Linked DNA regions of Homo sapiens: region 1 is linked to region 2. Evidence: fine-mapped expression QTL. Tissue or cell type: whole blood. Region 2 holds a variant in brackets; the other region holds the start of a gene. All regions are shown on one strand. Distances are from middle to middle.

What was found. PIP is the estimated chance that this variant, and not a neighbour inherited with it, causes the effect.
Region 1: it holds the start of THAP3, and the variant in region 2 is fine-mapped to the expression of THAP3 in whole blood (GTEx, PIP 0.96).

The regions. Positions count from the first base shown.
Region 1 is chr1:6,622,448-6,627,562 of GRCh38, reverse strand. THAP3 (THAP domain containing 3) reads right to left here and starts at 2,695. Exons shown (of 6, transcript NM_001195753.2): 1 at 2,609-2,695; 2 at 2,271-2,413. The coding sequence starts at 2,344. It overlaps PHF13 (PHD finger protein 13), which reads right to left. Exons shown (of 4, transcript NM_153812.3): 4 at 3,533-5,115. RefSeq lists a silencer at 1,895-2,304.
Region 2 is chr1:6,588,543-6,593,599 of GRCh38, reverse strand. It overlaps ZBTB48 (zinc finger and BTB domain containing 48), which reads right to left. Exons shown (of 11, transcript NM_005341.4): 10 at 4,756-4,844; 11 at 4,320-4,684. The coding sequence ends at 4,388. It overlaps KLHL21 (kelch like family member 21), which reads left to right. Exons shown (of 4, transcript NM_014851.4): 4 at 1-2,876. The coding sequence ends at 235. Among named protein-coding and RNA genes, the nearest start is that of ZBTB48, 11 kb to the right of the region's middle. The variant C/T (reference allele first, on the strand shown) is at 2,567.

The sequences.
Region 1 (5,115 bases), 34 kb before region 2:
TGAAACCCCATCTCTACTAAAGATGCAAAAATTAGCCCAGCGTGGTGGCGCACTCCTGTGATCCCAGCTACTTGGGAGGCTGAGGCACAAGAATCACCTGAACCAGGGAGGCAGAGGCTGCAGTGAGCCGAGACTGCGCCACTGCACTCCACCTGGGCAACAGAGTGAGAGTCTGTCTCCAAAAAAAGAAGTTTGTTTTTTATGTCAGGAGTTAAATTTGAGGTGCTTTTTAGGCTCTCCATGTGCTGGGGTGACAGGCGGCCACACGCATCTGGAGATGTCAGTGTGGCGGCCAACCCTGCGGAACCGATAAGCCTGGGTGAGATGGGCCCCTGGGGAGCAAGTGTGGCTAGAAGCCACCCCTGGGCCATGGCCCACACCCCAGGGCTCCAACACTTAGTGCTGGAAATAAGGAGGATCCAGCAAAGGAGACTGAGAAGAGACACCTGTGGCCAAGAAGTGTACCAGACGCCATGCGGGAAAAGTGACCCAGGCTCAGGGGTCAGTTGTGTGAAATGCTATGCAATCGATCAGTGTCACAAGGCTCACTAGTGATGTGACAGAGCTCTCGTGGGAGTGGAGGAAACGACTTCAAGAGAGAAGGCGCAGCAACTCCATCCCCAAGTACATACCTGACAGAGGCAAAACAGATAGATGCACTGCAACACAAGTCCCACCAAAACTGGCCAAAACAATGTTTGTTTTGTTTTGTTTTTTGAGACGGAGTCTCGCTCTGTTGCCCAAGATGGAGTGTAGTGGTGCGATCTCGGTTCACTGCAAGCTCTGCCTCCCAGGGTCAAGTGATTCTCCTGCCTTAGCCTCCTGAGTAGCTGGGATTTCAGGTGCGCGCTACCACGCCCGGGTAATTTTTGTATTTGTAGTAGAGAAGTAGAGACGGGGTTTCACCATGTTGGTCAGGCTGGTCTCCAACTCCTGACCTCAGGTGATCCACCCAGCTCGGCCTCCCAAAGTGCTGGGATTACAGGCGTGAGCCACCACGCCCAGCCTCCAGAACCATGTATTTGTCATCCAAAAAATGGGGCCACCCAAATGCCCTTCAATTGTAGAACAAATCAGTAAATTCTGGCACTTGCATTCAATGGAATATTATGTGGCAACGAAAGCGAATGAACTGCAATCCACTCTGATAGCGGGCAGGATAGGGTTCCCTTTGGGCAGGAGAGAGGAGGAGGGCCTGGGAGGGGGTCCAGGTAGGGGTTCTTCTCGGGGGTAGTGATGTTTTATTTCTTATTTTGAGATGAGGTATCGCTCTGTCACCCAGGCTGGAGTGCAGTGGCAAGATTATAGCTCACTGCAGCCTCGAAGCTGGGTTCAAGCGATCCTCCTACTTCAGTCTCCCGAGCAGCTGGGACTACAGGGGCACACCACCTTGCCTGGCTAATTTTTTTAAATTATTTGTAGAGGTAGGGTCTCCTTCTGTTGCCCAGGCAGGTCTCGAACTCCCAGGCTCAAGCGATCCTCCCGCCTCGGCCTCCCAAAGTGCTGGGATGACAGGCTTGAGCCACCGCGCCCAGCTGGTAACGTTTCAGTTCAGTGACGTTCACTTGGGGAAAACTCGCTGGGCTGTATACTTATGATTCGTGCATTTTTCTGCATGTACATTACGTATACTTCAAGCAAAGCATTTATCACAAAACAGAACAATGGGAGCAGAGGGAATGGGAACGATGAGCACAAGCCCCCCTTCGGAATGTGCCCAAAAGTGGGTAGAGAAATGGTGCCGTGACTGGACCTTGGAGAAAGCGCAACTGTGACTAATGACGATTGCTCCTGGGCCGGGCCGGGCCGGGCCGGGCGAGTGCTGGAGCAGACTCCAAAGTCTCCAGCGTCCTCCCGCGACCCTGCAGAGTCCCTTCCCACTGCCAGGACGCCCCTGGGGGTTCCACTCCTCCACTGCACTGCCCAGGTGCCGGGCTCCCTTCAGGACCGCGCGCGGCGGGGGCTGCAGCGACCAGGGACACAGCAAACCCCGGCCGCGGCCCGCTAGTCTGTTCAGCAAACACCTGCTCCGCTCCCTGCACGTCCCGGCCCTGGCCCCGCCAGGTGCGCCGCTGCCCCTCCGTCCGCCACTCCCCGCATCCCCGCGGCGGGCGCGGCGGCGCCAGCCCCTCTGGGCCCAGGACCTCGGCCTGTCCCCGGGCCCAGCGGCCGCACGCCTTTGGGCCTCCCGCCCGGCGCGCCAAGGCCTCGGAGTCGGTCCGCGGGCCCCGGGTCTGGGCCTCCCGCGCCCCCGGGTCCCCGCCTCTTACCGGTGGAAGGTGAGCTGCTTCCTGCGGCTGCTGTAGCGGTTGCAGCACTGCCGGGCCGCGCACGACTTCGGCATCTCGAGCCAGGCCTGGCTGCCCCCAACAAAGATGGCGGCGGCGGCGGGGCCTGCGGAGAGGGGAGGGACCTGCGGGGAGGGGCGGGGCCGCTGGGAGGTGGTGACGGGCCTGGCTCGCCTCCAGGGCGCGCTCATCCTGCCATCCCAGCCACCCGCGTCTCCCCAGGGTCGGACGGGACCCGGGGCGCCACGTAAAGGGGTGCTCCGGGCCCCAATTCAGGCCCGAAACCCCAACTCCTAGCCTTGGGCCTGTGCAAGTCTTACCCCATTCGCCAATGCTGGTCGCCTTTCACCTCCTTGCTTTGAGCACCCAACCAGGACGCATAGCCACTCACAGGCTTGGACAACTGGAAACCAACGGCCAACCCCTCAGTGTTTTTAGGGCTTTGAATTGTGAATAGGTCTGGACTCCTCTGACGTCACTGGAGGTGGTACTAGTTGGCCACTGGTGGTGTCAGTTCAGAGGCCAGACAGCTCACTGCCCTTAAGTTTGGTCACAGGGAACCCCCAAACGTGAAGAGGCAAAAAGGGCAACTGAAGGGGAGGGAGATTCCAGTTCAGGCCTTGCAGAAACTCCGAGGCTGCAGCTTTCTCAAAGCAGCCTATAGGGAAGGCGTCATCTTGTAAGAAGAAAAAAAAAAAAATCGGCCAGGCGCAGTGGCTCACGCCTGTAATCCCAGCACTTTGGGAGGCCGAGGCAGGCGGATCACCTGAGATCAGGAGTTCAAGGCCAGCCTGACCGACATGGTGAAACCCCATCTCTACTAAAAATACAAAAATTAGCCGCACATGGTGGCGGGCACCTGTAATTCCAGCTACTCGGAAGGCTGAAGCAGGAGAATCTCTTGAACCCGGGAGGTGGAAGTTACAATGAGCCAAAATCTCATCACAGCACTTCACAGCCTAGGTGACAAGAACGAAACTCAAGTCTCAAAAACAAAAAAAAAATCAAAAGTAGGCTAACCACTCACTGGGGCTTGAGCTAATCCTCAATCTGATGAAGAAACTGCAAAAACCATTCACATCTACTCGTCCTGTGGTTTGTTTCTAAGGAATTCACCAGCAAGGTACCTTAACACCGTGGGCATTTTCCATCCTGCTAAGTGCACACTGAGACGCTGCCTTCCCAGAGACTTGATGTAATCATGCTTTGGGGAGGTAGCAAGGAGAAAAGAAACACAATTGTCCTTCAGCACAGAACGCAATCGCCTGAACCTTGAATCATGAACCTCAAAGTAGCAATATATTTATTTACAAAATATACAGTTTCACAGAAACAGCTTCGCTTTATACACATAAACTTTAAAATTACACAGAACCATGTAAACGATGTGAAGTGTCTGGCCTGGCCAAAGCCAATGGGAGGGCCTACTTTTGGGGTGACATCCCTCCCTCCCCTCACTTCATTAGCCACCAACCAGGAACCACAGATGGGTCGTGCCTAATTTGCATATAAAGAAGCTGATTGCAGCTGCCCAGCTCAATCTAACACAAAAACCAAGGTGTCCGACTTCTTAGACACCACCCACAGGGACAGATCTGCTAAAAGAACAAAAATGCAATCAAGGAAACAAAATGGAGATGAGTATCACATGCATTCCAGAGGCATCGAACCTTCTAGCACACGTGACAGTTGCCAGGGCCGGCAGTTCCATTCTAAAGTCACATGGATTCTTAAATGCACCTTTAAAAGCTTGTGGAATTTTTTTTTTTCAAAGCAGAAAAACACTTTGGAGCGCTGGTTATTCACGTGGTGAAGACACTGGACAGGCGTTATCTCAGGGTAGATCTTTGGCAAATTCCTCTCCAATGCGTCCTGGCTGTTTGCCCTCGTCAGTTTCTAAACCAGCTTACTATTTTTCTCTACCGAACCTCCCCCTTGGGGATCTTCACAATAAACTGGCTTCAGAAACTATTTCTCTCTAGTTTCGTGTTAATACAAGCAACAGAACTTTTAAAAAAATAAGACGGTTGGACAAGTGTGAAAGATACTAGGACAAAAAAAATGCCTCTGATTAGCCAAATTACGGTTCAAGCCCCTTGGTGCTTCAGTGGGAGAAGGTGGGAAGAGTCTGCCTGGTGGCCTGGCACAAAGGTGCCACATGAAGGGGAAGCCCCCAGCAGTGAGAACGCGGGCCCATCCCACTGAAAACAAACATGACTTGCTTGAGCATTCTTCCCTTTCCATGCCTTAAAGAAACAATGCTTATGAAAACCTACCAATCAATTAGAAAATGTTTTGAGAACAAGTACTTGAACTGCTGAAGAGCAGTGTTCATTTCAGAGAAAGCCGGAGCCCCTCTCCCTCCCAGCCCCAGAACTACCAGTGTTCCAGGGCACCCTGCCCTCGAGCAGAGTTCTTCCACAGCCTCCGGCATCAACTCCCAGGTTTTTCCAGAGCTGGCCCTCACAGGGGCCTCCCAGGTCCAGGATCCCAGCTGAGATTTAAGGAACTCGGCACAGTTCCAAGGGGTCATCCTGAAGGCCCATGTTACCCTATCACTCACTCACCAACTCAAAACAGAAAAAGAAAGACTCAAGTCCTAACTGTACCCTGTGGAACCGGCAGGCCAGCCTGTCTAAAGGGCACACAAGAGTCACCCAACGGAGAGGGCTCCCTCCCAGCTCTCCTTTACCCTATTCTTTGGAGGAACACCATGCGGGTCCCAGTGATTGCCTAACCTTTATGCTGCTACCAGAATGAGGTGAAAGGAAGAGACAAAGACAGAACCTATGAGTTCCCACACTCGCAAACAGCTGGCCTGAGCCCA
Region 2 (5,057 bases):
CGACAATACATTTGAACTCTCGGACGTGGTAGAGGCCTATGACCCAGAGACTCGCGCGTGGAGCGTGGTGGGGCGGCTCCCAGAACCCACCTTCTGGCATGGCAGTGTCAGCATCTTCCGCCAGTTCATGCCCCAGACCTTCTCGGGTGGGCGTGGCTTCGAGTTGGACAGTGGCAGCGATGACATGGACCCAGGCCGACCCCGGCCGCCGCGGGACCCCGATGAGCTGCACTAGCCCCAGTCTGGCCCGGCACGGGCCTCGGTGCAGGTAACTGGCACCTCTGCGGGGCAGTGCCCCACTCCTTTGTGCACAAGGACACGTTGGGCTCACAGGAGGAGCACAGGCTCTTGGGTGGCGAAGCCAGCCCAGGATCCATTACCTGGAAGGTTTCTGTACCTTGAGAGCCTGAATCAGAGGCCGTCGGGAACGCCCTCCCTGCAGTTGAGGAAGAGCCACTTTCCTGCCAGCACATGTTTCTGGGTCTTGGAGGTCACCCCCACCCCGCGGATCACAGCTCACCCACGCGGCGCACACCCCTCCTGCCGTTGTCATCTGCACCTACTTGTTCCCACCTTGGGAGAGGACGATGACTTGGGAGGGACGCGTGAAGGGAGAAGGGGTCCTCCCATGAGGCTGAGGATGGCCTGAACCTGGAGCAGCGGACCAGGCAGACGGGCTGAAGTGGGGTCCCAAATTCCATGTCCAGAGGTGTGGGGAGCCTGCCTCCCTAGCTCCTGGCCCCTGCCAGGGGCTTACATCAAAACACCTCAGAGGGCTGCCCTCCAGAGGCTGCACCCAGAACAGTGGGACATGAGCAGGGGTGTGGGCTTGGAGGGTGAAGAGGATGTGGTCCTATCAGATGCTGGGCCTCCTCAGCCATAGCCCCCTGCTCCTACCCCCTGACTGGCTCTTGCGTCCTCACCTCTCACCCTCTCCTTCCCGGGAGGCCCTGGGAGGTGATCATTGACACCCAGCCAAGCAGACAGCTGCGGGTGCCCAAGCCCTTGCTGGGCCTGCGCGTGAGGAGTCCCACTGCTTCTAAAGGAAGTCCTGGGCAGGAGGTGGCTTTGGTGGTTGGTTCCAAAGTTGAAAATGCTTGCAGTTTGACCTTAGAAGAAGTGGGAAGAAGAAGGAGCTCTACAGGGTCAGCTTTGTTTGATTTGTCCAGTCTAAGAAGTCCCATTGCCAAAGCTTTCTGCAGGAGGGTGAATGCCGCAGCTTGGCAGCCCCTGGGTTTCTCTTGGAAATGGTCAGTTTCCCCTCAAAGTACCCAAAGTAGCCTTGGCTTGAGTTTTTGTCCTTGCCTCCTTTTTAGAGAAGAGGGCATTTAGACTGCATTTTCCTGGTTAAAGAAGGTTAAAGCAAATGTTTATTGCCTTTTCTAGTGAACTAACTCGTAGAGATGTTCTCAGCAGGAAGACAGTCTTAGCACTGTCACTTAGCAGATTGCACTTAAGTCCCTTGTGCTGGCCAGATGGCGTGGCTGGTTGCCTTAATATGTCCCAGGACCCCTGACAGGGCTGCCTGGCCTCTCCCTCGTGCTCCTCAAGAGCCCAGTCCATACACTGTGGATGTCATTGCTGTCGGGTTAGGAAGTCTTGTCCTAGAACGCCCTGGCTGGTATGACCACAGTTCATGGCGGCTCTTCTCGCTTGGGTCATGGTCATCTTCCAGCACCTGCTGTGCTGGGAAGGCCGAGGATGGGGGCCCAGCACTGTCCAGGCCTGCTGGGGCCTGGCTGGGAGTCCTGTGGGCAGCATGGAACATGCAGCTGGGCTTCCTGTGACCAGGCACCCTCTGGCACTGTTGCTTGCCCTGTGCCCTGGACCTTTTCCTGCCCTTCTCCTTCCTCTGCTCCCTTGGGGCTACCCCTTGGCCCCTCCTGGTCTGTGCAAACTCCCTCAGGGAGCCCCCCTGCCCTGTAGCTCTCGCTTAACTTCCTAGGGGCTGCTGAGCCCACCCAGAGGTTGTTGGAGTTCAGCGGGGCAGCTTGTCTCCCTTGTCAGCAGGGGCGTAAGGGCTGGGTTTGGCCATACAAGGTTGGCTACGCCCTCAATCCCTGACCGTTCCAGGCACTGAGCTGGGCACCCACGGAAGGACATGCTGTCCAGACTGTGATGACTGCCAGCACAGGGCATCTCGGGCTTGGCTGGTCTGCGAGGCCTTGCCCCTGTGGAACTCTGGGTTCCTGTTTTCTCAGTCTTTTTTGCGGCTTTGCTGTGGTTGGCAGCTGCCGTACTCCAGGCTTGTGTCGGCCACTCAGATGAGGGCTGTGGTGCGAGCCAGTGCAGGAGAGCTGCGCTTGGGATTGTGCCCTCTCCTGTGTCTGTCCTCCGGACCTACCCAGGTCTCCACCATCAGGACCCTGTCTTTGGGTTTAGAAGACCAAGTATGGGGAAAACCAGGCACCAGCCTCTGCAGCAATGGGTCCCTCTAGCCTGTGGACACCAGCTGGGGGATCCAGGGTCAGGCCCCCTCCTCTCCCCAGTTTCCCTCTGCTGTGGGTTCTGGGCTGTCATGTCTCCACCACTTAAGGATGTCTTTACACTGACTTCAGGATAGATG[C/T]TGGGATGCCTGGGCATGGCCACATGTTACATGTACAGAACTTTGTCTACAGCACAAATTAAGTTATATAAACACAGTGACTGGTATTTAATGCTGATCTACTATAAGGTATTCTATATTTATATGACTTCAGAGACGCGTATGTAATAAAGGACGCCCTCCCTCCAGTGTCCACATCCAGTTCACCCCAGAGGGTCGGGCAGGTTGACATATTTATTTTTGTCTATTCTGTAGGCTTCCATGTCCAGAATCCTGCTTAAGGTTTTAGGGTACCTTCAGTACTTTTTGCAATAAAAGTATTTCCTATCCATTTGGAGTCATTGCCTTTGTCCTCCTGCTACTGTCTTCTGGGACTCTTGGGCTGAGGACAGATGTCAGGGGAACAGGCAGCATGGAGCCCAGGGTTCACACTGAGGGTCTTAAACAGCCTTCCAGGCCCTTTCTCATCTCAGATTGTAGCAAGTGATGAAGCGTTGGAAAAGACATGCCCCAGAGGCTGGGTGTGGTGGCTCACACCTGCAATCCCAGTGCTTTGGGAGGCTGAAGAGGGAGGATCACTTGAGCCCAGGGGTTCAAGACCACCCTGAGCAATACGGGAAGACCTTGTCTCCATTTAAAGAGAGAGGCCTGAGAAGTAAATGCTGTGGAACAGATGATGCCCAGGAAACCTGCCTGCTCCAAAGCTGGTCTTTGCCTGTTGGTCCTCTGCCCGGGCCCGGCTCCCACAGCCCTTCTTGAGATTGCGGTACATACAGGTGGTGATGAGACTCCCATCTGCGATGAGATGGCCCTTGGACCTGGGGAGGTGGAGCCCTTCAAATACAGTCCCAAACCAGGCTGTGAATCCACACAAGCCGTCTGGCTCAAGATGTTTTTCCTATCTGCAGAGTCCATCTGAACCTGAGGGAGAGGCCAGTGTCTCGGCTGGGAAGGAGAGCAGTGTTGAGACCACAGTGGGCCTCTTTTTTTTGTTGTTGTTTTTTAAAGACAAGGTCTCATTCTGTTGCCTAGGTTGGAATGCAGTGGTGCAATCTCGGCTCCCTACATCCTTCGCCTCCTGGGTTCAAGGGATTCTCGTGCCTCAGCCTCCTGATGCACCACCACACCCAGCAATTTTGTATTTTCAGTAGAGAAATGAAGCTGTCAGTAACTTACCCAGGGCCAACTTAGTTGGGAAGAAATTTAAACAACAGCAATCTGCTCTAAGGCCCACGTGCATTTGCTCCTTGCCACACAGTACCCCACAGCTATAGAACGTGGGGACCAAAGCCTCCTGGACACAGACCAGGCTGCTTGAAGGAAGGGCCCCACCCTCCTCAGACCCCCAGGCGTGCTCAGCTACACTAACTGGGCCCAATCCTTGATTCTGCCCAACAAGGCCAGCCCCGTGGGCCCTGATCACTCTACTGAACTCCAGAAGCTTAGTAATGAATTCTATCTCCAGAAGCCGGTATCACCTCAGCTCTAAAATAGGAATACTGGTGCTCTAACTGGCCAGCGTTCCCCACTCTAAAATCCTGCAGTAATGAGGAACAGAATACAGATGTGGAGAGCAGCCAAGGCCAGAGGTTTGGCCCCCAAAGGAACCCCATCCAAGCCTCGCTCAGCTGAGGTTTCCTGACAGGAGGGGAAGCTGCCAGCTGAGCTGAGGCCCACATAGGACCGGGCAGGGCACTACTCTCTCCTGAAGGCGTGGGTGGGAAGGCAGCACTTCCCCAACTCCAGGACACGGGAACAGACTGTCAGGCTGAAATACGAGAGTCCAAAGCCACACGGTTTATTGAGGGGTGGGGCCAAGTGGGCTCTGGTGGCCAGAATGGGCTATGTGTCACAGTCCTCGGGGACAGCAGCTGTGATGATGAGGGAGGGCTCCAGGACACCTGGGCCGGTGAAGCTCTCCTCTGCACACAGTCTCTGGCCGGGGAGCTGGGAGGCCAGGCCGCCCTGGGCCAGGGACTCCACAATGACCTCCGCCGAGCCCACCTCCAGCTCTGCAGGCGGCTGCAGCGCCACCACCACCATCTTCTCGTCCTCGATGATCAGGTTGCGGAGCTTGCGCTGCCGCGGGTTGTAGTTCTCTACCCGGTCGTGGATCTCCATGTGCCTCCGCAGGTGGGCCTGGCGGGGAGGGTGAGCTCAGAACTTTGGGGGATCCTAGGGTAGGGGAAGGGGCCCAGGCCCTGGCCTACCTGTCGGGTAAACTTGTAGCCACACTCGGTGCACTCAAACTTCCTCACCCCCTTGTGCCGTCTGACGTGCACACGCAGTTGCTCCACGGCTGCAAGAGGGAGAACACCGTGGGGGATCATGCAGGAGCCCCGGGACCCTCGAGGAAACCCAGCAGGAGGTTGGGACAGGCAGCAAGGGAGGGGACCAGTGGTTTACAAGTGCTGCACAGGCCCTGCCAGGCTCTCCAGTGCCACCCAGGGTCACTACTGCACAGGACACCCCTGCCTTCAAAGCAGGTCCACTCTCAACTCTAACCATGTGG